4 linked regions of the Homo sapiens genome follow. The protein of the gene in region 1 purifies or fractionates together with the protein of each later gene. This does not show direct contact. Each region holds a gene or a part of one and is shown in the gene's direction. Other genes may lie near its edges.

The links.
Region 2: the proteins of AAGAB (region 1) and AP1S2 purify together in Homo sapiens (affinity purification with mass spectrometry; 3 studies listed by BioGRID and IntAct, with this or other methods). This does not show direct contact.
Region 3: the proteins of AAGAB (region 1) and ASAH1 purify together in Homo sapiens (affinity purification with mass spectrometry; 3 studies listed by BioGRID and IntAct, with this or other methods). This does not show direct contact.
Region 4: the proteins of AAGAB (region 1) and EDRF1 purify together in Homo sapiens (affinity purification with mass spectrometry; 3 studies listed by BioGRID and IntAct, with this or other methods). This does not show direct contact.

Annotation. Positions count from the first base shown.
Region 1 is NC_000015.10:67,251,662-67,259,259, reverse strand, and holds the start of AAGAB (alpha- and gamma-adaptin-binding protein p34), read left to right. Parts: upstream 1-4,598; 5' UTR 4,599-4,628; coding exon 4,629-4,701; exon of another isoform or gene 4,702-4,846; intron 4,847-7,598. Other genes in the region: IQCH (IQ domain-containing protein H), read right to left, coding at 4,313-4,363. UniProt on the Homo sapiens protein: May be involved in endocytic recycling of growth factor receptors such as EGFR.
Region 2 is NC_000023.11:15,851,814-15,858,780, reverse strand, and holds the start of AP1S2 (AP-1 complex subunit sigma-2), read left to right. Parts: upstream 1-3,967; 5' UTR 3,968-4,093; intron 4,094-6,256; coding exon 6,257-6,435; intron 6,436-6,967. UniProt on the Homo sapiens protein: Subunit of clathrin-associated adaptor protein complex 1 that plays a role in protein sorting in the late-Golgi/trans-Golgi network (TGN) and/or endosomes.
Region 3 is NC_000008.11:18,074,108-18,081,133, reverse strand, and holds part of ASAH1 (acid ceramidase isoform a preproprotein), read left to right. Parts: intron 1-5,546; coding exon 5,547-5,593; intron 5,594-7,026. UniProt on the Homo sapiens protein: Lysosomal ceramidase that hydrolyzes sphingolipid ceramides into sphingosine and free fatty acids at acidic pH.
Region 4 is NC_000010.11:125,729,687-125,736,712, forward strand, and holds part of EDRF1 (erythroid differentiation-related factor 1), read left to right. Parts: intron 1-585; exon of another isoform or gene 586-601; coding exon 602-713; intron 714-2,178; coding exon of another isoform or gene 2,179-2,239; intron 2,240-3,717; coding exon 3,718-3,865; intron 3,866-3,948; coding exon 3,949-4,057; intron 4,058-4,385; coding exon 4,386-4,497; intron 4,498-5,957; coding exon 5,958-6,218; intron 6,219-7,026. UniProt on the Homo sapiens protein: Transcription factor involved in erythroid differentiation. Involved in transcriptional activation of the globin gene.

The DNA of each region.
Region 1 (7,598 bases):
TGTAGCCTCTTAGAGGCTTAGTGTTCTCATCTGTAAAATGGGAATAATAATAGCTATCTCAGAACAGTGGCAAGAATAAAATGAGTAAAAATATAAGTACTTTGTATAGTGTTAAGCACATAGGAGGGCACTGAACAAATGTTAATTCTCTTCTGAATTATAAAACCTAGTGAAACTCCTTACACTATAAGTAATACCCTGTAAATGTTAATTGAATTTACGTAAATGTTAATTGAATAACTTGCTCCCTAATCTTTCTCAAGAGTTTTTCCTTTTCTTGCTAGATATTTTCTCCTCCCCTCTTAACAACCACTCATCTGTTTGTATAATTGCAATAGAGACAAATACTATAGAAAAAGTTAACCAGACTTGGGTAGAAAAAGAGATTTGAGTTCTAAATCTCTTTCTTCAGATAGATCCAATCTACCATATTGAAATTTTACATATCATCCATCATCTCTGTGATCATCAAACACCTTGTTTTCCATAAATTTTCTACTTGGAGAAAGATTATTATTTTGACAATTTGGAGACAGAGCTACTTAATAAGAAGCCCTTGAAAGATTTAATGCAGCAAAGATTTGCTCTAGACTTTACAAGAGCCATGAAACCAGACTCTATATTGTCAAAAGCAATATAAAATTCCATTTTCTTCATCTCTGCTAGAGTTTGGCTGAGTCATTCTCATCACCTCAATTATCTTTAACTTCATTCTTTTTTTTTTTTTTGAGATGAAGTCTCACTCTTGTCCCCCAGGCTGGAGTGCAATGGCGCGATCTTGGCTCACTGCAACCTCCACCTCCCGGGTTCAAGTGATTCTCCTGCCTCAGTCTCCTGAGTAGCTGGGATTATAAGAGCATGCCACCACGCTCGGCTAATTTTTGTATTTTTAGTAGAGACGGGGTTTCACCAGGTTGTCCAGGCTGGTGTACGAACTTCTGACCTCAGGTGATTCTCCCGCCTCGGCCTCCTAAAGTGCTGGGATTACAGGCATGAGCCACCGCGCTTGGCCTTTTTTTTTTTTTGACACAGAGTCTCGCTGTGCTGCTTGCTGTGTTGGAGTGTACTGGTGCAATCTCGGCTCACTGCACCCTCCACCTCCCAGGTTCAAGTAATTCTCCTTGCCTCAGCCTCCCAAGTAGCTGGGATTACAGGTGCCTGCCACCACACCTAGCTAATTTTTGTATTTTTTAGTAGAGACGGGGTTTTGCCATGTTGGCCAGGCTGGTCTTGAATTCCTGACCTCAAGTGATTCATCCGCCTCAGCCTCCCAAAATGCTGGGATTACAGGCATGAGCCACCACGCCTGGCCAACTTCATTCATTTTTATATTGTATGCACCTGACAAATCAGACACAATCAGAAAGAATGAAAATAGCAAACTGTCAATTGAGCTCCCATATTTCCAAGATCATTGTTAACATACAATTGTTGGATTTTTGTGTTAACACACAATTGTTGGATTTTAATTAAAAAGCTAATTTTGAATCATAAGATCAGGTAATATTTGTTACACAAACATTTAATATTTGGGTCAAGCAAGTATTTATAAAGATATATTAAGAATATACCACATTTTAATGAAGCATAAAAACAAAGCTTCTAAGATTTACAAAGCATGATTGGAAACTTCCCAGAGTCACTATCACACTTCTTCAAGATTACTTCATGAACATGCCATAGCCTATTTAAGGATCAATACATACTGGATGTATTACAATGGGCAAGATGCTTTACTTCTTTGTACCTAAGTGTCTTCTGTAAACTGGAGCTAAAAAATAATACTTACAACACCTTTGAGAACCACTGGTCTAAAAAGCTGTTTAATATATCTGACTGATACACAGACGTAACTGACCATATTAGGGTGAAGCAAGTAGAAATTTAAAGTACCTCTGCTTTACAGTCTATTGCACACACACACTCACTCAGTCACTGACTTGCCAGAAACAATTTGATTGCCTAGGCTAACAACAAAGGAAGTCTACTTTTACAGTAAATGATGTAGCCTGGGGAAATTGGGACAATTTAAAGTCAGAAGTGAACCTAATCCAAACTATATGTCCTATGGAAGAGGAAAGTGAGGTCCAGAGAGATGAGTGCCTAACTCAAAGTCACTACTTGTGAGACTGTCAAAGTCATGGTCAGATCTCAGTATTCTGACTCCCTATCAAGTGCTTTCCACTAGACACACTAATTATTGGTAGCCTGTCTGAGGGAAATAAATCATAGCCCCAAATAGAAGTGGAATCCACGTTGGCACAGTTGGGTGGTGCTACATACTCACACATTCTCAGGATTCACTGAGAAAGTAGGGAAAGTCTTCCAAATTTCCTCACTATACATATTCTACATGTAGAGAATAGAATTTTATACTATACAGGAATCAGTCTTAATAATCTGGTTAACAGGTAGGCTCTCTTCCTCTACACAGCCCTTTACTTGATATGTCCACAGGAATCCTTTTAAATAAGTAGGGGTGCAGATCAACATGGATATGACTATTAGCTCTTCTGACCCATCTCACAAGTCAGTGTCAACAGTTATCTATTACTATAATGTTGTATCCTAGGTAAGAGTCTCCATTATTGTTCTAATTATTTGGAATCTATAAAAAGAGTGGGTATGTGCAGCAAAGAATTAACCTTACCCAAAGAGGGGTCCAGTCTTCGCTCCTGGCTACTGGGAGGTGATCTCTAGGCGCCTGGGATGTCCTGCCTGATAGAAGTGTCTTTGTCTGTGGGCTTTGGCCACCAGACAGTCTATCAACATGATTTATAATGGGTGTTTTGATCCACGCTGTATCAGCTCAGACCTCTGGAGCAGCGGGAAACTAAAAGTATTCAGGAGGGGCTGGAGATTAATGGTCAACCACAAGGGCAGTGTGAGATTGAGCCCCAGTAAAAACTCTGGACATCAAAGCCTCAGATAAGCTTCTCTAGTTGCAATATTCTATGCATATTGTCACATATCATGGCTGGGAGGAAGTAATGCAGGTAATGACGTCAATGACTCCACAGGGATAAGATGACCAAAAGCTCTATGTTTGTACCCCTCCTGGACTCTGTCCTATTCATCTCTTTCCTTGGCTGATTAATTTGTATGCCTTCACTATAATAAAATTGGAGATGTGAGCACAGCACTTCCCTGAGCTCTGCGAATAGTTCTAGTGAATCATTGAATGTGAGGGTGGTGATGGGGCCCCTAAGTTTGTACCCAGCTGGTCTGAAGTGAGGTGGTTCTGGGGACCCCTGAACTTGCAGGTAGTGAGTGTTGAAGTTAGGGCAGTTTTTTGTGGACCGTTCCCTCAGACTTCGCAGTTTGGCTAAACTCATTGCTGCGTGATGGTGAAAGTGAGGGTGAGAAAAGATCAGGTAAGATTAGGTATGATTCTTAATGGGGAAGTCTATGAAATTGGTGAGTTCAGGGGCTTGTATTTGGGAAAAGGTACATTTAGGGAAGTCTCTCCTAGATGGGAGGTAAGAGATCAAAATTCTGCCAGAAAAATTAGATCCCTTTGACGAGTAAGACCCACTTCAGACCAACTGAGTGACAGTCCTGACAGAGTGACCTTAGACAAATGACTTCAAGACTTAGTCAAATGCAGCTATTATATATGTGATAGTTAAAACCGATGATATATGTGGAAATATCTTAAAGTTACCTCACATAAATGTGAAAACAAAATGCCATGATCATTTCAGAAACATCTGAGTGCAACTATTACAAATTGAGCTGTATTGGACAAGACTTTCTTGACATTTCCCCTCTCAAATTAAAAAGGTCTTTCACTAAGTTTTTAAATGTCACATTTTTTCATTCCAAGTTATCTTGATTTTTCTGTGTGTTCTCCAATGAGGAACATTTAGATCTAAAAAACTGGGGTGTTTAAGAAAAGCAATTCACATATTTCAATTTGTCTCCAAATTTCTTATCACCTCCTAGAGTGTCCGATTTGTCTCTCCTCCACTCCCGACGTCATGGGTTCAAATTTTTCAGAATATAACATTTAAAAATGATGCCTCAGCGTGAGGTTAATTTTTCTGAAGTAAAGGTTCCGGGTGAACGGTTTTAGAGTTTTCCCAGAGGCAGAAAGTCCTGCTTCTGGGGCGTAACCTACAGGGTAAGTCACCGGGAGTGTGCTGGGCCGTGGGGGAAGGTCTGGGTGGGCATTTTTGGGAGCCTCTCGCGAGTTGGAGGGAGTCTAGGGGCGGCGCACCAAATGGGTGAGCGTCGGTGAATCGGCGCGCGGGACCTCGCTCGGAAGTGGCGCGGCTGGGCAGGGCAGGGCCGGGGGAAGCCCGTTTCCCACCTGGATTAAGATGGATCCGACAGGGTCGTGGTTTTCAGTGTTCTGTGCCATGGCTAGGTCAGGGAACGGCTACCTCCGCGGAGGCGCGGTTTCCAAGCACGGAAACCTTCAGCCGGAGCCGCTCGTCCCCATGGCAACACCGCGCGCGACCTGGCCTGTTCCACGCTGGGAGCGGAAGGGGGTCTAGGGGCGGGGTCAGGCCAGCCTGGTCATTCCGAGAACGCCCTCTCCGGCCTGTCTCCCCCTCGCGCCGGCGGCCGTGGTGCAGCCCAAGGCGGAAGCGGCTGCCTGACGGAACCGGCTCGCGAGCGCAGCTATGGCTGCTGGCGTACCCTGTGCGTTAGTCACCAGCTGCTCCTCCGTCTTCTCAGGAGACCAGCTGGTCCAACGTGAGTAGATAGGCGCCTGGGCCGACCTCCAAGGCCCCTGAGCCTCAGCGGGCGACGGACCCAGCACCACGGCCTCTCTGGGCCTTGTCCCCGCAGCGGGCCCTGCGTTCTTCCTCCAGTCAGTGGAGGCGCCCAGTCTCCCCAGGTGGCTGCCCCTATCTCTTAATCTCGTGCTTTTCTGCCCACTCGGCCTTCTTCGGCGTTCCTTTCGGCTTCCTGTGTAAAGTGAGACTGATTTCCCGCTCTGCTCAGCCCAGGCCACAGGTTTTTGCGAGGATCCGTTGAGATGAACCTGAAGGCTCTCCGGAAATTGCGCTAGGTTACAGGAGTGTAAGGTGCTGGAATTGTTGATATCGTGATGTTGTTATCCTTGCTGCTCCGGGAGAGAGTGTTTACTCTGAATTCTGAAGTTTATTCTGCGTATTTACTCTGAAGTTTATTCTGCTTCTTAATGTGTACATTATAAGACTTGTTAGCTTTGTCCGCTCCACTCTAGTTATTCACGCCTTTCATCTGAGGCATGGGCTCTCCGCCAACATGAGTTTTTGGGTATGATTGGGCTAGTGCTTTTGCTTGTAGACCCTCATAATGGCTGTCAGACTTACTAACTCTTAAAAGAGAGAACATGGGACTGGATAATAAGCCAACTCTACTAAAGGGCTCTGTGAAGTTGAATTATAGGTAACTCAAGACTTCTGTTTTAAGTGTATGGCTTAGAATCAGAGCAGTGACTTAGCTGTATGATCTCGAGCAAGTCACCTAACCTACCTACATTCCTTCCTTCTTTTCTTTTTTTTTTTTTAAAGAGACGGGAACTTGCTCTGTCGCCCGGGCTGGAGTGCAGTGATGCGATCATAGCTCACTTCAGCCTCGAACTCCTGGGCTCAAGCGATCCTCCTGCCTCAGTCTCCCGAGCAACTGGGACTGCAGGCTCACACCACGAACCCTGGCTAATTTTTTTATTTTTTGTAGAGCCAGAGTCTTGCTATGTTGCTCAGGCTGGTCTCCAACTCGTGGTTTCAAGTGATCCTCCTGTCTTGGCCGCCCTAAGTGCTGAGATTACAGGCGTGAGCCACTGTGCCTGGCTACCCTTCACTTTCTCTTTTCTCTCCTTTTTTTTATTTTTGTTTTGAGATAGGGTCTCACTCTGCTGCCCAGGCTGTAGTGCAGTGGCGTTATCTCGGCTCACTGCAACCTCTGCCTCCTGGGCTCAAGCCATCCCCCTACCTCAGCCTCCCAAGTATCTGGGACTACAGGTGTGTGCCACCACGCCCGGCTAATTGCCCCCCCCCCCCCCCGTCATACGGGGTTTGGCCATGTTGCCCAGGCTGGTCTGGAACTCCCGGGCTCAAGTGATCTGCCTGCCTTTGCCACCCAAAGTGCTGGGATTACAGGTGTGAGTCACCACCGCGCCCGGCCCCTTCACCTTCTATCTATAAAATAGGGATAATTTTCGCAAGATTGTGCTTATCCCCGAGTCTGGCACATAGTAAACATTTGATAAATCATAGACATTATTATTAAGGCACATTACTATCTCTGTAACCCTCAATTTCCTGATCCTTAAAATGGGGCATATGAGCCTATTTCAGGAGTATTTGAAGGACAGATGATGTGACATTTTGAACACACTTTGTAAACTGTAAAGCATTGTATAATTATAATTTCTTTGCTACACCTGTCAAATGACAGAATTAGGTAAGATGTCCCTTCAGTGCAGATATTATATGACTTAGTTATCATTTGTGATCACTTAGAAAGTTCCTTGCTAGGGTAAAAGCTTAATTATAGCATTTAACTAAGTGGTTACTAACTGGTCTAATTAGGCCATTTTCTTACCTTTAAGCAGTGCTCCTTCCTATTTTCTCCCTTCCCTCCTTTCTTCCTTCTTTTCTTCCTTCCTTCCTCTTTTTTCTTTAATTGTTTCATTGTAAAACTAGTGCATACTAAGTAAAATTTAGCATACAGAGAAAAGAAAATAGCCATAGTCTCATTACCCAACTACAAATACTGCTAACATTTCTTTCCAGTCTTTTTTTCCATTGCAGTTTCTTAAAAAGAAATAATTGTAATTACATTTAATACACAATTTTTTCTGTTTTTAAAAATTTTTTAAATACACAGTTCTTATCCTCAGATTTATCAAAAATTAGTTTCTCACATATATCCATCTAGTGAATAAACCAGAATTTGCTCAAGATTCTTAAAGATGTAACTAACTTTCCAAAAGACTTACATGCATTAGGAATCCTATTAGCGATACATGGAAGTCTTTTCAAGACAATCTCAGGAATATTAATTATTCTAAATGCTATGGTGCTCTGTTGTGTGCTTTAATGATCCCAATCGGCAAACATGGTCCCTGCCTTGAAGTAGCTGATTACCTGTAGTTAGCAAATAGTAACATTGTACTTCTGTAAAGTGTATTAGCATTATTGGGGGTAAAATTAATTCTGTAAAATAATCCATTTTATCTCTGTATATAAAATGCTCTTAGATAATTCCAGTTCGGGTTAAGATCAGATGACCTTTCCATTGCAACTCGTTACTGTCGTGTAGTAAAAAATAAAAGAAGAACAGCTAGTGAGCAGATTACTTGAATAAGGAAAAGTGAACCATAAAAGAGGGCTTATAATTTCTTCCAAGGTTGTGAATAGGGTAGCAGTGGATAGCGTTAAAATGAAGTATTTGCTGAGCATTCATTCTTTGACTATAATTAAAGCTGGGATTAAATTAATCACAGGTTGACTCTAATTTTGAGGTAAGAGATGGAGCCCGCATAATATTTTGTCAAGTGTTCGGTGATATTAGGCCGTGGAATAGTTTTGGATTGAATTGGATCTACCTTTTTGGGAAAGTTTGGTTCTACTTCATGTATCAGCGAGAGAAACCTTTAG
Region 2 (6,967 bases), on another chromosome or scaffold:
AAGGATTTTATCTAGCAGATATTAAGAATAATGGCTCCAACTCTGAGAAAGAAAGAGAGGGAGAGAGAGGGAGAGGGAGGAGAGAGAGAGAAAGAGAGGGAGAGAGAGAGAGAAACTTATATGAAGATAATGTTTGTTCCATTTCTTGAAATGTCTATAAAAATATGCTACTGCATGTTAATATTTTCAGTGACTAACCCAGGATTTCTTCCTGAACCTTGGCACTAGTGACATTTGGGGCTGGATCATTCTTTGCTATGGGATCTCTCTTGTATGTTGCAGGATGCTGGGCAGCATCCCTGGTCTCTGCCCACTAGATGCTGGCAGCATCACCTACTACTCCTAGTTGTGACAACCAAAATGTCTCCAGACACTGACAAGTGTCCCCTGGGAGGCAAAAGTGCCCAGGCTGAGAATCACTGCTCTATCCTAATGTTCATAGGGCAGTAGTAATTTTCCTGCATTTTATTCAAAGCTATGGAAACAGGCTTCGAGAAAGAGCATATGTTCCACATTTCTCTTTAGCTCATTGTTGAGGACTTTGGCAGTGACAGCTCTATCTATTTTGAAATGATTTGGTTCACAAATCCTCATTATTTTAGGCCATTTTTCTCCCTGGAACAACTTTATCTTTGGAGATGCAAATTCACAAACTCTAAACATCTTTTTTACACTTTCTGTGATCTACAAGGCTTCAGCACTGAATTCCATTATTGGGCATTTTTATTTAATAATTTCTAAATAATCTATAGACTGGCTAAAGGAACTCTGTATAAGTCCATAATACAGAGCTAGCAACTAATGGAATGGTTTTTATCTACCTCCTTACAATATTTTAAAAAATTATTTAAGAAAAAACCTAAGTAAAATGTAATAATACCCTTTATTACATCCTACTGCAAGATTCTGTCCATGGAAAGAAATTCACCATTGCTTCTGGGATTTACTTCCTGGTATCGAAAGAATATGCTAATAATTCTAGTTCGTGATTTATTTTAGATGTTATCTATTTTCTTCCCTTTAGCACATGAGGATTTAGCATTATTTCAACCTTCCCTCACTTCTGCTCCTCCATAATATCAATATATGACAATTTTTCTTTAAATCATCAGTGTTTAAATGATGAGCTGACAGTGTATCCTGACATCCTTATCGACATCCTCATGTAAATGTTCCCTCTCTTATTTTCCACGTGGGTATGTGTTTTAAATAGTCCCTTTAAAAAAAATTAATGGTATTTTGAGACAGTGAGAGGATAAAAGTATATGGCCATCACACATTTAATAGGAAACTAAAATTATTTTTGAAAACTTTGGAAAGATTACATAAAAAGTCTCAAAATTTTATCGTTAGAAGGTAAAGATTTCTATTTTCCCCTCACCTCTTACATTTAGCATAAATGACAGTGAAGCATTTTTTTCAAATTTAAGAAACAAGTATAAAATCTGATTTTTAGTTTTTCATGAAACGAATTTTGTATATAATTCTTGTATCAATATTAACACCAATAAATCAGGACCATCTAGAAAACAAAAACAGGATTAAAAAAGATAACCAATTGACATGACGGATGAAGAAGACACTAGGTGAGAAGAAACATGTATATAACAAAGCCTACAATTGGGAAATTGTGGGAATCAAAGTCAAGCAGTTAATTACTAACAAAGATGGCAACCATGTTTCTTTTGTCTTTCACAGTGAATGCATAATTAGCACTTAATACTAAGACTAGGGAATAAACCATCTATAATCTATTGAAAAAGACCATCTGCTTCTATAAATTTTGTTCTCATACACTTGCCAAAAGAAGAGAACATATTAACAAAATAATGGGCCCTGCACTGTTAATTGCTAGGTTGTTTGCAGTTGTGCTGTTGCTATTAGAATTTAATAAGCCATTCCTTCTGCTAAATTAATAAGCAGCCAAGATTATGTAATAGCTGCTTTCAGCTGCTAATTATTTTTCCCACAATTCCTTCCCCTCCCTACCCCTACCCCCACCTTTTTTTGGCTAGGAGCAGGAAAGGAGACTGCCAGTATGTCATCAGCAAGTCTCCCGTCCTCATTTTCAGAGCAACATTAGGAGCATAATCAGAGTTTAAACTTGGAAGTGGCTATCTCAGGAACCTTCAGGATATAAGTGTTTTGTACAGAAAAAGAGAAAAGCAGCATTTGGATTCAGAGGGCGAGTTTTCATTGTGTAGCATTAGAGCTATCTTTTAACTGGTTAATGGCATCTGTTTCTTGTAGTAAGAGAGAAATGGGACATTCGAAAGCACCTTTGGGGCATGACTAGGTAGGGAGAAATCTGGTGGGGGCGAGGGGGACCTAAAGAACTACAGAAAGCCAGCTCTGTGCCGTGTGTCGTCCCCTTTCTTTAATATTCCAGTATACATTAATCATACATGTTAGTAGGAAACTTTCCAAGCAGCACAGTAGTGCTTGAAAAGGGGAAGTATTACACATTTCTTTTTGTTTTGTCATACAAAAGCATTTTTTAAAAGCCCCCAAAACTACTGTCTTAGTTTCATAGATACTATAATGTACACAAAAAGAATATAATCCCTAATAAAGGATTCCTTTACATTGATTACATTTAGCTTCGTGAAAATTTTAGCATTTCTTTTTTTACTTTAGGCCATTAAAAAAATTCTGGCGACTATACTTAGGAACCTCTGCAAAAGGGGCATGGCCCAACAAAAGCAATTTTCTCGCTTCCTTTGTAAGAACCTAGGTGACTCGGGTAATGAATAGCATTTCGATATGGGAAACCCGTGGCTCTTCAAGGAAGGTCACCTAATCCCGTGGGACTCCCCTTTCCTTATCTGTAAATGACTAGATGATTCATCCATTCTATCATTCAGAAAATTATGAACATCCATTATGCCCAGGCATTACGCTCAGCATTACAGCTCTTAACAAATTTATCATTTTATAGTCTTTATCAGTCAACTCACATTTATTAGTTGTTATATACCAGGCTGTGAACTAGATTGAGATGCAAAATGAATACAATTTAAGGTGTGCTAAATAAAGGCTAACGGGCATGTGGGTGAAAGAGGGAATCGCTCTTACAGGGTTTTAGGGTGAGGCTTCATAGATGTGACATTTGGGAGCAAGGACATGCCAGGCACAGCAAGTCGTCGGCAGTGCTAAACTGGAACCCAGGCGGCTGGTGGGGCGACCCAGTGTGAAGGAAGCGGGATCTCGAAGGTGAGGTGCTGTCCGGGCTTTTCAGCCGAACGGACGGTAACTCATCCAGTCCGCAGCACCGAGGATGGGCGAGGCGAGCCCAGGGAACAGACTCCCGCGAAGCTCGGGGCGGAAGGTGTCTGGGCTAGGGCTGGAGCAGTGCAATGGGAAGGAGAGGGCGGATTCCGGACAATTTTGAGGCAGAATGATAGCAAAAGGCCCGTGAATGCGTGACGAGCTCCACAGAAGAGCTGACTTGTTTTTCCAGAGTTGCAGCACTCCCTCGTCTCCTCCCACCCTCCTCGTCAGCCGTCACACTTCACACTTCCTCTCTGGGGACACAGAGAATCATTAGAGCTCGAACGTGGCTCTTCGCTGTCCGGAACTTCCCTGCCCCGCACCACCCGCTAGGCTAAGGACGCTGCAGAATCCCGTCCTCCTATCATTAAACAAGCAGGACAGCCGCCCGCGCGCGTCCCGGAGGCACCTGCAAGAGCGCGCGGGCGCGCGGGCGCTCGGGCCCGGCAAACGCCGCTTCCGGGTCACGTGGCCCGGCTTCCGGTTCGCACCTCCCCTCAGCGAAGAAACCTCCAATCGGCTGCCTTGGACTCAGCGGTTACCCGCGCTGCCTCCGGTGCCGCTGGCGACCGCTGAGCCGCTTCCCGCGCGTCGCCTAGCCCGCCCCTCAGCTCGCCGCAGCCCCGGCTCCTCCCTCGTCCGGCCCCCGGGGCGGGGTCTGTCAGCTTGCCCTCCCCTCTCCGCCTAAGCCTGCCCTATGCCAGCCGGGTGTCCTCCCCACAGCACCACGGCTTCTCTTCCTCAGCACGGCGACAGGGGCTTCCCCTTCGCCGCCGCCGCCGCCGCCGGCCAAGCTCCGCCGCGCCCGCGGCCCGCGGCCGCCGTAAGTCCCTGGGGGCGAAAGGGGGCGCCGGGGATGGGGGAGAGGGGGAGGGAGGACTGGGCGCGCCCCCCGCCACCCCGCGCGCGCCCCGACGACCCCACCCCGAGCCTGCCCGGCCCGCCACTGGGTCGCCGCGCCCGCAACTCACTTCTCTCCGTGTCCGCGCCCTCCGCACCACTCCGCGCCGCGCCCGGGGATGTGGGGGCCAGTCCCGGGCTCCGCGACAGCCTCGCGGCACCTGTGGTTCGGGAATCGCCTCAAGTTTTGCGGGGCGCTTTCGGGAGGGGCCGGGGGCGGTGGCGGCCGAGGACTCTTGGCGCCCCCTGCGCGGCGGCGGATGCCATTGTCTGCTCCGCTCCTTGCCTGTCACCTCTCCCGGGCTTGGTCAGTGATGGAGTGTGGCCACGGGAGTGGGGGGGAGGCACCGGCGACGGCCGGACCCGAGGAACGCTGGCCCCGAGCCCGCGCCGCGGCTGAGCCCATTGTTTTTAATGCCAGTCTCGAGGAATTGTGGTGCCCTGTGATTTGCGGCAAAATCAAAGCGTTGGTTTTTAACACGAGGGAAGGAATACTCGTGCTTTGCAACCGGGTTTCGTCCCATGTTAGGACATAATTTATTTTAAGGAGAATACATTGTTTTTTCGTCCTGCAAAGTGGTAGGGCGGATACAGGACCCTGCTCCAGACAGCCTTGAGCCCATACTCTTCGCAGGCAAACCCTCACCCTTTCTGGTCACCAAGATCTAGGAATACGAGGTCCATTCTTTTCCAAGTTCTGGTAACGGGTTTGCAGTAAATGCCCAGTTGATGCTTCACTTCCTGCCCCCTTCGAATGCCGCTATCTTCAGGACTTGCACGGGAGGCACTTTGGTATCACCTAATAATGTCCTTATATTTTGTTCCCCTGACGCATTTTAAGTGAGGTAATAAGACCATTTTAACTTTACTAAAGTTGAATTGCCACGTCATACATTTCTAGATATCTTGTTGATACCTTTTTGGGTGGTTACAAAAAGCGACGATAATTTCTTACCGAAATTTAGGGCCCATTTTTATTCTACATTGGTTCTGTAAATTTCCCCTCCCCGTGTTCAAATTCAAGATGGTGTGGTGAATCTTGAGAATCATGCTTGAATCTTATTTGCAGTAACGCTGTTAAAGGAACTTAACAGTGATTAAAAGAAAAAAGGATACCTATGTGAATTCTGCCTTTAAATTACCTTTGTAGAAACAATACTTCTGTTTGCAGTTGAGATGACCAATTGGATTACAAAAAGCTTGGCGTTAAAAATGAAACATGCAGACTAATCAACACATTTGCAGATCACAAATAAATACATACAAATTAGTTTAAGTATAAAACACACTAGAATTCAGCATCCATTCCATCTGTAGATACTATTTTTTATTTTAAATGAAGTATTTCATGTAATGTTTCAATGCTGAATCTTATTTAATAAGTGTAAATCTTATTGTGGCCTTTTAAACGTTTGTTTTCTTTTTCATAATACATTAACTCAGTTCTAGATTTTGTACATATTTAAGTTGGAATGCTTTAAAAGTCAGATGAAAACATACTTTTTTATTAATGAAAATTTGTATTTATGGGATTTTTCAGTTAATATTTTGGATCATTCTGTTTTGCTTAAAATATGCCATCATAAACTGAGGAGAACATTCCAAGACATAAGCTACTGTCTGCAAGTAATTCACCCTGGAACTAGAACGGCCTCAGGATGAAAAATAGCAGGTCTTCTGTTTCTTTCAAAAGTACCCAAACCAGATGATGTCTACCATTCTCTTTTGATGCATATAGAGAGTGCGCAATGTATAGCACAGGTAGAAAATAGTTTCTTAAATTGAAAGAGTGATCTTTATTTTTCTTCAAAAATTTCACTTCAGCTTATTACCCATTTTTCTTTTTTCTCCTGCACACTCCCCTTCAAACTTAATGTGGAACAAGGTGGGATTGGAAGGTTTGCATCTAGAGGAAGATCTGTCCAAAAGAATTTCTTGCTATTTTAATTGGCATAGAAATATTGATGGCTACTAATCATTTGTCATGTAAATGCCCCATCCCCCAAAACTTCTCTGTGAAACACATAATCTTAACTTTATTGATTCAAAGTATTACATGTAATCTTGATTTTATTTATCTTAACAGATGCAGTTTATGTTGCTTTTTAGTCGTCAGGGAAAGCTTCGACTGCAAAAATGGTATGTCCCACTATCAGACAAAGAGAAGAAAAAGATCACAAGAGAACTTGTTCAGACCGTTTTAGCACGGAAACCTAAAATGTGCAGCTTCCTTGAGTGGCGAGATCTGAAGATTGTTTACAAAAGGTATAATTTTTGTTTGTCAGAAAGGTGAAATAGAATCAAATGTTAGGTCATTTAGGAAATTGCAGACTTCAGTGATGACATTTATAAATAACGATTAATAAAGATTTAGATGAAATAGGTTTAAGGTAAAGCTTTGTGTTTTTAAAATAACTAGTGTTTTGATTGATAATTACTGAGGCTGAAATGATAAAGGCAGGGAAATCCTTTGAAAACTAGTTATATAATTAAAGGCATAAATGATTATTCATGCTTAATCATCTTTATAGAAGAGTTTAATGAATTCATTTCATTGCAGGGGAAAGTAGGGTCAGTATTTTAAATTGTGTGAGTAATTCTCTGAATTGAGACAAGTACAGATAGAGTCTAATTCTTTTTCCCCGAAAATCTATAAAGTAATGACTAATATTTGACATGCCTTTTATCTGATTTTTAGAATCTTACTCACGTGTAAATACCTTGACTATGTAGACTATTTCAATCACATAGATGTTTTAAAAACTTTGTGTATACATGAGATGTGTTTGTAAGTAGT
Region 3 (7,026 bases), on another chromosome or scaffold:
AGCTTGGGGGCTAAAGAATGAGGATCGTTTTCATTTGGGGTGTATGTTAAATTTCAGGTGGCAGAGAGGCATCCAGCAGGCCACTCGGACTGGCACTCAGAAGAGAGACACTGAGAGTCACTGGCATAATGATATTATATTTGAAGCCCTTGGAGCAGATGAACTTACCTAGAAATAGGATAGAGAAAGAGAAGAAAAGAGAACTAGGCAAAGGCTAAGTAACTTGCACATGTATGTGTCAAGAAGAGGAGAAATTGCCAAAGTTAAAACAGGACAGGCCGGGCGCGGTGGCTCATGCCTGTAATCCCAGCACTTTGGGAGGCCAAGGTGGGCAGATCACGTGAGGTCAGGAGTTTGAGACTAGCCTGGCCAACATGGAGAAACCCTGTCTCTACTAAAAATACAAAAATTAGCTGGGCATAGTGGCTCACGCCTGTAGTCCCAGCTACTCAGGAGGCTGAGGCGGGAGAATTGCTTGAACCTGGGAGGGAGAGGTTGCAGTGAGCCAAGATCCTGCCATTGCACTCCAGCCTGGACAATGAGCGAAACTTCGTCACAGAAAACAAAAACAAAAAAATAGGAGAGTAAGTGGAACAGGAAGCTCAGGGAAGAGACTGGGACAGGTTAACTATGTTGAATATTATTGAGATGTCAGTGGTATTATGATGTTGGGCAACTGGAGGTCATTGGTCACCTCGACTGGAGCAGTGTTGGGGGCAGAAAACAGCTTGCGGTAGGCTAAGTGTGATTGGCAGGAAAGGAACTAGAGGGGAGAGATGGCTGCTCTGCGTAATAAATCTGACCCACTTCATAAGATGTGCGAAGATGAAACGTAATGGCTTAGTAATTAATTGCCAAAGTAAACTTGTAAACTCATTTTTATGCATCAGCTTCTCATACTAGTTAACAGCGTATGTCAACATTGTTGACATTAGCTATTGAATCAGCTTTAGCAATGATTTTCACGCAGTTGCCAGAAATCTCATAGACCCCATCTGGCCTAGGAATTTATTGCACTTCATCTGCTTTTCCCTACTTCTCCCAAAGAGGGAACACACAGGTGTAATCCATTCACTTATTCAACAAATACTGCTTGCCTACTATGTGCCAGACTCCTAAACGCTGGGAATGCGTCAGCCAATGAGATAGATGAGGTCCTTCCTCTCATGGAGGGTTTATTCACATTCCTTTGACCTAAATATCAGTAGCTTAATAGGATGCCATCCCATCAAAGCCCAGAAGACAAGTGAAAACATTTTCAAGCTCATGTGAATTCTTGTACACGTAGGAAACATGCCTCTTTGTATTCAGTGTTTCTGCTGAGTTGTACATAAGAGGACATTATAGGAAAAACTTGTCTGCAAAATAGTTGTTGATGAATTCAAGAATTGAATGAATGAAAAATTGTCTGGCTAGAGTTGTTTGGCTTCTGGTGGGTATGAAAACTGACATGAGGTATGTAATTTTAGATTATCCTTCATTGTCTCTTTCTGAGTATTTCAATAAGACAAGCACACAAGGGCTTTCTGGACTTTTAAAATTCACTATTAGAAGCATACATTATTTCATTGAGGGTCTCCTAATTCTTTCGGGCTCAAATATTTTAAGGAGCTGTACAAGTTATGCCATTTTTTAAGGGTATGGCGCTTTCATTGAGACCTTAATGTTCTCTTTATATTTTTGTGTTTTTTTTAGAATGTTGTGTTCAGTAGCTCTGTAATTAATTTCTCTTAATGAATGGGGAGGACATTCAAAGAGGCTTAAGTTTCTATCAAATAACCAGAAAAATTAGAGAATTTTCTGACCCAAACAGTCTTTTAAAAGCACTTTCCAGAGAGTTTTTTGTTTTTTTTTTTTTTCTGAGATGGAGTCTTGCTCTGTCTCCCAGGCTGGAGTGCAGTCACACTATCTCGTCTCACTGCAACTTCCACCTCCCGGCTTCAGGCAATTCTCCTACCTCAGCCTTCCGAGTACCTAGGATTACAGGCACATGCCACCCAGCTAATTTTTGCATTGTTAGTAGTAACGGGGATTTCGCCATGTTGGCCAGGCTGGTCTTGAAGTCCTGACCTCAGGTGATCCACCCACCTCAGCCTCCCAAGGTGCTGGAATTACAGGCATGAGCCACCATGCCTGGCCCAGAGAGTTTCAAATGCATTGAAATATCAGATTTTTACCACTTATCTTCACTCTTAGGAGACCACTGAGGGGCAGGGAGAAAGGTAGGGAAGGGCAGGGAGAGAGAGAGAAAGAGAGGTACTGTGGGGAGAGGGTTAGAGAGAATTGATTCTAAGTTGGATTTTGTTTCCTGTGATAGGGTGTACATAGTATACCATCCAGACCACATAATCTCTCTTCTTATCATCTGTTTCTAATCTTTACCTATCATCTATTTAAGTTTTTACCTGCCTTAATAGAGTTGTCTGTTATTAAACTGTTTATAAACTTGGGGATAGTAAGGAACTTTAAATAACATTAAGTAAGTTCATTATAATTCTGTTTTAGGGCTACTCGTGGGTTTTGAAGCTGTGTCTCCCTGTAGAATTCTTTTTTGAGGGGGAGGAAGTAGCTCTTTTTTCCACCCTACCCCTAAAACTAACCTTTTTGCATAAACGACTTAGGCGTTCATGCCATGTGAGCCCCTGAAATACTGTAGTCTCATAGCTGCCAACTTTCTTATTTTCTGTCACACTTATCCTATTTCCTTGCAGCCAGGTTCTATGCCAATTTCACGTTTGTTTATTGCTACCAAGAGTCGTTATCAACCTCAGACTCACTCCACATGTATTGTTGCTAGCTTGCTCTTTAGTTCTTACCTCTGGGGCAGGTCACATTCTCTCCTAATACTAGACAGAGCATTTTCAACTTTGCTCACAGTTGTCTAGTAAGAAATGTGCCTGTAATTTGATGTTTATTTTGGCTTTGGAACCCAGGGCGTGCAAATGTCATTATTAGGAAGGGATAGGAGTCATTACGTTTCACTTAATTTGCCGAGTTGATTCTAGTGATCACCAGAAGCCCTGAACTACGCGCAGATTATTCTGTTAGGAATTAAATTGAGGCATTGGTTTTATTATCTCTGTGGGAAGCTGTTTGATAGAACAGGGAAAGCCATTGACTCTGATTCTGTCACCAGCTGTGTAACTTTCTACAAGTCACTAATGGAGCAGGGTCTTAAGTCCACAACATGATCATAAAATTAAGCACTTGGGTTAAGTACCCATCACAGTATTCCCAACTCATAGGAAAACAATGGTCAGATAAACAAGAAAATGTAAAGCGGAGTATCTCCTCACAGCAGAACTTATTTACAAATTTTACAAAGTAAAATTAAGTTGCAACCCCTATAAGTCTCTAAGTAGCTCATTTATTAGCAAAATAAGGAAAGCCATTTACCAATGGTGGATTACCTAAATTGTATTCGATTGTAGTAGCAGAAGTATTGTGTCCAGGGAAAATGAAATTATTTTACATGTCATTGAGAACCCTTGTCCTGGACTTTGGGAAGAACATCAATATCAATTAAAGAACAAAGCATGTGATTTTTGAGTGATTTTTCTTGACTGTCAACATACCGATAACTGATCAGTTGTTGATATTTATTAGATGATCATTGCCAAGTTTGAAGTGACTGAAGAGTTAGCCTCTGAATCATCTGTATAAAACAACTACAGGCGAGGATGTTTTCGAAGAAGCTGAGAAAATAATGATTGAGTATAACCTGGAATGGAATCTGCTAAGATCTATAAAAATTGACAGTAGTAAAAATATTTGTGAGTAGAAAAAGGCGGAGTTGAGCAAATTCACAAAACTTGTGAACATGCGAGGTGTTTAAAGCTCATGGTTATTTATTATAGTATTCCTTTTCAGATATTTTGTGGAAAATATTGGAATCTCACATGTGTTATTGAACCGGCAATATAAACCATGAGCTTCATTTGCTCTTGTGGATATAACCGTCATCATTTCTGTGAATTATCAGAAATAGAGGCCGGATATCCTGATGTCTCTTGTGACAGAGCCATTAGATAGCTTGCTAGCTGTAAAGTTTTGCAGTCTTTGAGTTCACAGTTGAGACTGAAGTTTTTCTAAACGAGCTGCCCCCAGCCACTATTACTGAACACGAATGGCTTTGGAAATTAGCTTTTGCTACAGACTTGATATTGTTTCTTAATGAATTCAACGCAAAATTACCAGACAAAGCCAGACATATGTGAGAAACTTACAGTGTGGTAAGGCAAATTTGACAGCTAATGTTTGAATCACAGGTAATGTCAACCTACTTTATATATTCCCCATGTTATCAAAAGTTAAAACAAGGTGCTAGACCTCCATTCTTACACAGCTGTCCAGCAGATACATTTTCTGTGCTCAAGCTACAGTTCCAGGAGTTTTCTGAGCTCAAGCTACAGTTCCAGGAGTTTTCTGAGCTCAAGCTACAGTTCCAAGAGTTTTCTGAGCTCAAGCTACAGTTCCAAGAGTTTTCTTACCTACTCTACTTTATCTTATTTTGGATTTGTACTTTTTTAAAACAATTATTTTACTTTCACAGAACTGGTTCTCCAGAGGAAAGGAGATAAAGACACTTGATATGTTGAATGAGTAACAAAAGAATCATAAATCTGTGTGGACTTTTTTTGATAAGTTTAGGAGAAGGTTCCATTTTGCCACTAAGCTTGGACAACTTCCCCTAAAAGAGTCTGTTCATTCCTTGTCTCAGGCAGTGACGTCAGTGTTGGGGGCCGTCCTCACCTCAAGGAGCGCAGAGTCTGGTATTGACAAGGAACGCAAACAGATGATTATAAAGCAGTGTCATAAACATGTTGATGAGAGTGTGCACAAATGCTGTGGGAGGAAAGGAGGGTATGAATATTTTCATATGGAAGATAGATGAAGACTTCACAAGAAAGAAAATGCTTGAACTGAATCTTGGAAGTTAGAACCAGCAGTTCACCAGGTGGGGAAAAGGCATTCTAGCAAGAGGGAATAGCACAGACACAGGCATGGAAGGGTGAGAGATGATAGGAAGTGCCTGCGTATGGCTATAAATACTAAGGGGAGTGTCAGGAGATGAGGCTGGGATGGTAAGTTACCATGGAAAGATGATGAAGGGCCCTGTGCTGTGTGCCCTGAAAATCTGGTTTGGGAGGCAAATCCCAGGACAGGTTGCAACACACATGGCTGGTAAGTGCAGATAATACATCCTATCAGGTCATTTACTTTTAGTGCTAAGTCAGCCTCTCTAACATAAATATTTTCCATCTACTTTGTTACATTTGTTCGTTACTCAATATATTTGAAATATTAGAGCCAAATTATAACACCTAGCACTTTTACAAATTGAATTGAAACTGAAAATCCACTTAATGGTTTAGGATTTTAGAAGTTTTCTTGGAAAGAAAAGACTTATTTTAAGAGGCATTGAAACGTATAAAAGAGCAATATCAGACTTGATGTTGTCTTCACAGATTAACTACTTTTGAAATTGCTTATTCCGTTGGCAAGCATTTGTTATTTTCTGAAACTTAATTTTCTTTGCTTTTCAGTGGACAGAGGACTGCAGAAAATCAACCTATCCTCCTTCAGGACCAACGTGAGTAAACATCAGATGATCAAAACTCCCTTTGACCTTTGTGAAGTTTTTTCTGTATGTAATAATTGCTCATAAACGAACGATAGTGAATAAAATCTTAAGTCATGTTTCCCATTCCGAGACAGAGGTTTGTTTCTCAGATTTGTTTATTATGCATTTGGCTGAGATCTTGGACAAATATGAAAATATCTTCCGATTCAAATGCCCGTCGCTAGACTATCAAAATCATCGGAAAGAAAAGGATTTTCAGCCAGACGCGGTGGCTCACGCCTGTAATCCCAGCACTTTGGGAGGCCGAGGCGGGTAAATCATAAGGTCAGGAGATCGAGACCATGCTGGCTAACAGTGAAACCCCGTCTCTACTAAAAATACAAAAAATTAGCCAGGCGTGGTGGCGGGCGCCTGTAGTCCCAGCTACTCTGGAGGCTGAGGCAGGAGAATGGCGTGAACCCGGGAGGCGGAGCTTGCAGTGAGCCGAGATCGCACCACTGCACTCCAGTCTGGGCGACAGAGTGAGACTCTGTCTCAAAAAAAAAAAGGAAAGGATTTTCATTCTCCACTCAATTCTCCTGTCTACCATGAAGGGTTTTTCTCATCTTTGACAAATGTAAGGGCTGTATTTGAAATGACCTGTGATTCTCTATGGTGCCTGGATATAAACCACCAAATTATATTGTAACAAAAAAGCATAGGCCCTCATATGTGAAACGTTCTCAAAATAAACCTTGGCACAACAAAGCTGTCGAGGACAAAACAGGATTGGAACACCTAAGAGGAGGACCAATGTCATGATTCAGTGTGTTTAACATTAATATTTTTAGTCTAGATTTTGGTCTTTCCAAATCCTCAGTGTTTAAATGGGCCTGTGAGAAAGCCATAATAACAGCTCACAGACCCCTCAGAGTGTACAGAACAGAGAAAAGAAGGAACAGGTATAGGGGGTGGTGATCTTTTTCTCCTACACTGCCCTTTCGCTGAAAGTAGCCTGCTGTTTGTAGGGGGAAACAGTACAACTCTATCTAGTGATATCAAGATGACATTTTCAGTTCGTGCAACATTCCAAATTACTTACGTTGTACTGTTGTTGTCTAAACGATGTATTTTAAATAGCCTCTGTCCCAGATAGCGTGAAACTGTAATAAACTAAGTTCTTTTGACTTACTCGCCTTTATGTAGAAAGAGGCCAGTATTTGGCAGGAAGCAATTTAGAGGTAACCAGTTTGGATGTTGTTTGGGGCCAGTGTTCATTCCAGCTCTTTCTTCAATGGCCTGCTGTCTGAAAGTCTTCCTTTCTGTCATCACTGGCATCATTCTGGCCTTCAGTGACATGTCTGCCTTACTGATTGATTATGTCTCTCTGTTGGTCTCACTGCCCCAATTCATTGAACATTTAATGAGGTGCCTTCCATGTTTGAGGCCGTTTCTACTCCCTT
Region 4 (7,026 bases), on another chromosome or scaffold:
CTTCCCCTGCCAGTTGAAATGGCCACATTAAGGAAGGAGCTACTGTCAGCAGATGCTGAAAGGCAGGCCTATAGCTGAGTCTTCATTCTAGACCTCATTGAATAGAGCCAGAGGTTTGTTGGACTGGCCTAGTCTTAGGTCTGAATCTACAACTTGTGAGAATATTCAAGAGAGTTTATTTAATTAGTTAGATTCCTACTAACTACTTGTGAGCATTTTTCTTAATGCTCCACGTGTATTTGTTGATATTAGCCAATGTGAATTCCAACTTAAGCATGGTCTTGTATGGTGTTCAGTCTTTCTTCAAGTTGTGTGTGAGGAGCAGGCAGTAGGCTCACCGTCCTTTCCTATTATATTGTCTTCTATTCTTACTGAAAACTTACCAATGTCAGTTAGAAATACAAGCAAGCTTTTGGAAAGATGTTAAATATAGCACAACCACTGAGCTGCATGTGCATATCTTATCAGAAAAGAAAGCATAGATGGCATTTTCTATCTAGAGAGGACAGCTTAAGATACTTAAATGGTGAAATAACTTTCAGATGATTAATTAAGGAACATCTTAATTAAACCAAATAACACTAGAAATGTATATTTTTAGGGATAACAACAAACCAATTAATGTGCTAACTGGAATTGACTATTGGTTGGACAACTTGATATGCAATGTGCCAGAGCTTGTGATGTGTTTTCATGTAAATGGAATTGTACAGGTAAGATACAGTGTGATTTTTCTGATCTCTCAAATGCAAATTGGTACAGAGAGTTCCTCACCAAAGTCTTTACGGCCCTGAAGTACTAAGGTGCATTTTTGCCAGGGAAGATAGCTGTGAATAAACTGAATTTGAGTGTACATTTAAGTTGGTGATAACAGAATTGTAGATGTTATAGAAGTATAATTTTACAGGTAATTTGGAGGAAGTTCATAAATATATGAAAACCTGCATTTGTAGCCATAGAACTCTAATTTTAATGCCAAGCTCTCATTAATAATTAACTGAAAGTGTCTACACAATGGAGGCGTTTCTTCGTTATGCAAATATCTACTCAGTACATGCAAAGTTTTAGGGAAAGGTCTTGTAAAAATTGCATATGGTGGATAGCTTATATAGCAAATTCTTATTGAGCATATTCTGTTTAGAAGACACGTATCCCCATTATAAGTGTTGGGGGAAGCTAGGCGTGTTGGCTTATTCCTGTAATCCCAAGCTACTCAGGAGACTGAGGCAGCAGGATCACTTGAAGCCGAGAGTTCAAGACCAACCTGGGCAACGTAGTGAGACCCTAATTGTAGAAAAACAACGCACACACTTAGTTGGGCATGGTGGTACATGTCTGTAGTCCCAGCTACTTGGGGGCTTGAAGCAGGAGGATCACTTGAGCCCAGGAGTTTGAGGCTGCAGTGAGCTATGATCGTGCCACTGCACTCCAGTATGAGTGACAGAGCAAGACCCTGTCTCAAAAAAATAAAAAAATTGAGAATTTAAACAATAAATAATTGTTGAAGGAAAACAAAGAATAAGCTTGGTTGTTATTCAGAAAGAGATAATCTAATGGGAAATAATATGCAGAGAGAACAGTAGGAGACAGATAAGAATTAGAAGTGTAGCACACAGAAATCTAGATCATCAGAGAAGGGGGTGAGCACTTCCATTCAGGTCTGGAGGAAAGACTTTGTGGAAGAAGGGACATCTTAACTGAGTCCTGAATGATAGCTAGTATCTCAAAAAATAAGAGCTGGATTTTAAAAGTCTAGTGTAAATACATGAAAGGATTGATAATAAATCCAGCTAGGGAACACAGGATTTATGTAGCAGAATAGCTGCAAGTAAGGTTGGAAAAGTCATGGTCAAATGATGGAGATCTTAAATGTTGAGCTAAGGAGTATGGACTTGGTTCAGTTGGTAATCTGGAATCAGAAGGCTTTGCATCTAGGAGGGGAAATTTGTTGTGTTAGAATATTAATTTAGAGATAGCATATAGGACAGAAAAGGAGGACTTAGAGACAAGAAAACCAGAGGCATTGTACCATTTTGCAGATAGTGTAATGTACTTTCCACTAGAGAGGAACTATTAAGAATCAACAATGGTAAGAATAGATAGCATTTATTGAGTGCTTATTTTATCCAAGCACTTTGCTGAATGCTTTAAATGCTTTACCTTATTTGATCTTCTTAGCTACCTCACATGCTGTTATTCCTATTTGATGGAAAGAGAGACTGAGGATCAAGGAGCTCAAGTGAGTTGCCCAGGGTCAACTTAGTAGTGAGTGGCGGTGCCAGTCTTTGTGCCTCTCTCTGGCTGAGGACATGCTTTGAACCGTTATATTCCAACCCAGTGATTCTTAACCTGGTTGTGCATCAGAATCACTTGTGGTCTCTGAAAAAATGCACTTGCTTGGGCCCCCAGTGTTCTAGTATCAGTAGGATGTGTACTTCTGTCTTTTCTGAAAGTCTGCTGTATGATTCTGGTTTGCAGTCTTGATTGAAAACCACTGTTAGACCATCTCCCTAAATGGCAACATTTAGTGAGAGGCTGGGGTGGGAGTGGGGAGCAAGAGAAAAGAGAGAGGCAGATAAAGCGTTAGCAAGGCGGAGGGGAACAGGAGTCAAAGGAGATTCCAGGGTTTAGGGACTAGAATAATGGTGGTGCCATTTAGTGAGATAAGGATGTTGAATTGGTTTAGACAGGGAAGGTAATATGTTTTTGTCACATGTTCAGTTTGAGGAAAGTATAAAAATGTCTAGTGAGCATTTTGAAGTTGCAGCCATTAGAGAAATAAATTGAAGCATCATCTGCCTAGATACTGTCAGATTTCATCACCAGAGGAATCTATTAAAATCAGACATTGGAGCCTCTCCTCATAGGGGTAAAAATAGAAGGGCATTTAGAGAGAGAGAAGGAGAACAAGAATAGCACAGATTAAAATACAGGAAAGGAGCATTTTAAGGAAGGAAATAATCAACATTGGGGACTTCACATGAACAAAGTGGGGTGAAAATCAACCTCAGACGATTGTGTTTGGTCTTACATTCCAGTTGATTTGAAGTTTCCAGTTTTAGAGTACTTCAGAAAATGTGGTAGGAGATGGTTAGGAGAGTGTGCACAGAAGATAAACAAGAAAAATGCAAAGGCACTTTTAAAATAGTGGTAGTAATGTCCATGAAGCCTTTACTCTTATTGCCACCTCCATTCCCCCCTGCTCCATCCCTGTGAAGTAATAAAGTCCATAGATGAAGGGAAGAGAGGTGTCTACTGGAAAATTTCCTAAATGATTCTCTCTCCTTGAGTCACTGACTGTAGTTTCTAGCAAAAAAAAAGGCCAGAAATACATGTGTTTTAAAATCTTGCTGGGTAAAGCCTACCTTCATTTACCATCTTCCCAGTTGAAAACCATTCAAGTGGAATAAAAGTAGTCAGTATGATTTGTTCCATGTTAGAACAGAAATAAGATCATGCCTGAATCTGAGGTTCTAAATCTGGTAGTGATTCTCCATTGAAATTACTCCAATAGTGAACTGCCCTTGCTGATGGGGTGGATGAGATTCCTTTGGGAGGCTGGGGCAGAAAAAAGATTAAAAACCACTGGTTTAAACACTTTCATGCTACATAGGTCTCTGTTTGCAGGACTTCTGCATTTGGTTGCTTTTTAAAAAGAAAGGTGTTGTTTCCTTGGGTTTTCTCTTAAACTGCTTTCCATCTGTCTGTATTTTACAGAAATATGAAATGATAAAGACAGAAGAAATTCCCAATTTGGAAAATTCTAATTTTTCTACTAAAGTCATAAAAGACATTGCACAGAATATTTTATCATTTTTGAAATCTAATTGTACCAAAGAAGGACATACCTATTGGCTCTTTAAAGGTAAGCTATTAATACTTCTTGAGTGAACAATAATTGATTTGGGTAACTGCTGTGAAATGAGTCTTCTTTGTTTTTCTTTTCAGCAAGTGGCAGCGATATAGTGAAGCTCTATGACCTCACTACTCTTTGTGAAGAAACTGAAGACAAATACCAAAATCCATTCACAATGCCGGTAGCCATTCTCTTGTACAAGTGAGTGCTTTAAGAATTTAAGATGAAGAAGTAGCCTATTATATAAAGTTTTAAAGCATACAGTCACAGTTTCCAAACCAAGGCTTTTAAATGCTTTTAGGTTTTCATAGTAGGGGGAAAAATACACGTACACATTGTACCAAATATTACTCAGCTTTCTTATGCCACCATAGTATAAACGTTTTGGGGGTTGTGGGTAAAGTGTAAAGTTTAGTATTTTGTTGTTTCTTATAGCTCTTTGTTGGAAAGAAACAAGAGCACTCCTAGACTTGAGTCTTGCAGACAACGATGAAATGGGCAGTAAAGTTGATATAAACTCTTTTTTTAGGGTTGCTTGCAACATGATGATGAAGAAGAATCAAAATAAGAAACACTATGGAACTATTAGAACATTGCTTCTTAATTGTCTGAAATTACTGGACAAAAGTAGGCATCCTCAAGTAAGATTAACATTTATGTATTCTCTAAAACAATCCTAGCATTCTAATAGGAGATTGTTACCTAGACAGTAAAGCCTCCTGATTCATATTCCGTAACTGCCCTATTCAGTGTGGTAGCCATTAGCACATGTGGCTGTTGATCACTTAAAATGTGCTTTGTCTGAATTGACATGTGCTGTAAGTGTAAAATACACACTGAATTTTGAAGATTGGATGTCTGTACCTATTACATGTTGAAATGCAATATTACATATATTGGATTAAATATATTTAAGTTGATTTCACAGATTCTACTTTTTAAATGTAGCTACTAGAAAATTTAAAATTTCTGTATGTGACTCATGTTACATTTCTCTCAGACAGCACTGCTCAATGAATTTAGAATTCATGTAATTCTAACAGTAGTGCCCTTAGTTCTTTGTTTTGTCGCTATTAGACCTTGTTACCACTTTGTTAATATAAATAGGGTTCACATTCCACACTTCAGGATATTAAAGCATCTCTTAAATAAAGGCCAGTAAAATTTCTTTTAAAGAGAAGGGGAAAAAGCATCTCTTAAAATATTCCCTCAGTCATGCTCCCAACAGTTTTACACCATCCTTACCCTCGGTTGTCTGATTGACAACTTTATTTTTCACTGTTAAGGCTATTTGTTGTATCCTGTTCAAATCAGTAAAGGTATGTAAGATACGCAATTTTTCTTTGAAGAGCCAAAGTAATTTTAATTGTAGCCACATTTGATTTAGAGATAAAGATTATCCTAGAGACCAAACTCAGAAATGTTTTTGAAGAAAAATAGTAAAACATTTTGTTTCTGACTGAAATACCTAATTGCTGACTGAGGTGGCAGTGTTTAGTGGAACTTGAGTGGTTTATTTGGATGTTAGAAATGGTGTTAAAGACTATTGTCTGTGATTAAGAACTGATAAATAGTAGAATGGGTTAAATGGTCATATATAAATGCTAATTTTAAGAGATATCAGAATGGACTTTTCCCTTTTTAATGTAATGGTTTTTTTTTTCTAGAACCATAGATTATATGATAAATATTAGTTACCTATTATAGAGAAACTTGAATTAATTTATAGTTTGTAAAGAAAAATTCTGGTTTCTCACTTGGCATAGGGTGGTATTAAATTTTTGTTAATATTTTAGTTATGACACTCTGTACTCAAAAGCTTTTGTTTGTCTCCAGTGAAATTCAGTTGACACCTTTTAAGAGGGAGGGCTCAGGGTGGAGTAATTTCGGGAAATAGGAAATGCATCAGCCTATAAAGATTTTGCAGAGCATACCCAGAGTATCAGTAGCTTTGAACTGGGAACATTTCTGTGTGTGTTACAGTCTATATGGTGGAAACAGCCTGTGTGCAGACCTCCTCCTAAAATTCGTTAGTATGGTAGTAAAATTCATGTATTTTTTGATGACAGTAATTTACACATATTTCTCTCTTTTTCATAAGATTATTGCTTCCGCCAATTACATGCTTTCAGAACTTTTTCAATTGGATGAACCTAAAAAGGAAGAAAATTCAGAATCTCCTTTAAATGAGAATTCTGATGAAAGTTATAGTGAAGAGGAGGAAGAGATGCCCGACAGTGATGAAAATGGATCCTATAGCACCAGCTCTGATCCATCAGATGATAGCAAAGCAGTAGCTATAATCAAGTCTGTTGGAGAACTATCAGTACCAGAAAAATACAAATCTATTCATCAAATCAGAGTAAGCCTTTAGAATTTATATTAAATTTTTATCAAGGAAACATAATTGTTAATCGAATATAGTTAGCCTTTCAAAAGATACCATTACTTCAATAAACCTTTCATGGTCTAGCATCTAGTAATCATTAGTTTTCTGAATTCTTAAAGTTGGTTTTATAATTGTTCGAGGGTAACTGACCCACATTATGCAAGCCTATAGTGGACAGGTGTGTAAACCAGGTGTCTGTCTATTCTTATGTGAAGGATTTTCCTTTCCAGTGACCAGTGTGTAGTCATAGTCATGTCTCATTACTAGGGCACTTCTATCCGGTGTTGGGGTTGCTGGGAAATGACATATATAGATTGCTTGGTGAACATAGAGTAGAGAAGGGGGTGGCTCTTGGAACTGTATATGGTGAGCTCTGGTACATTATCCCTGTGCTATATAGGACAGTACTTTTTTCGTGACTCTTGTGGTCATGTCTGTTGTATTGGACATGTCTCTGCCCTGGAGAGGGCCAGACAGATTTCTCCCTGTGTGGATTGCACTGACTCTACCATCAGTGTATCTCCAGGCAGTATATACCTTTCAACATACCGTCTCCCTATGATTAGATCCAGGCCAGCCTTAAGAGTTCTGGCTGTTCCCTGAACTGAAATACAGTCGTATTTACAGATAATCTCTTAATTTAAGCACTGAGTGTAACTTTCAGATGGAAACTCTAAGCAAGTTTTTGAGGGGCTATGTCTGTCACCTTAAAACATTGACCATCTTTCTGACCTTCACTTGCTCCATTGGTTTGCCGTGGCCATGCTGGGTTTTTTTTCTC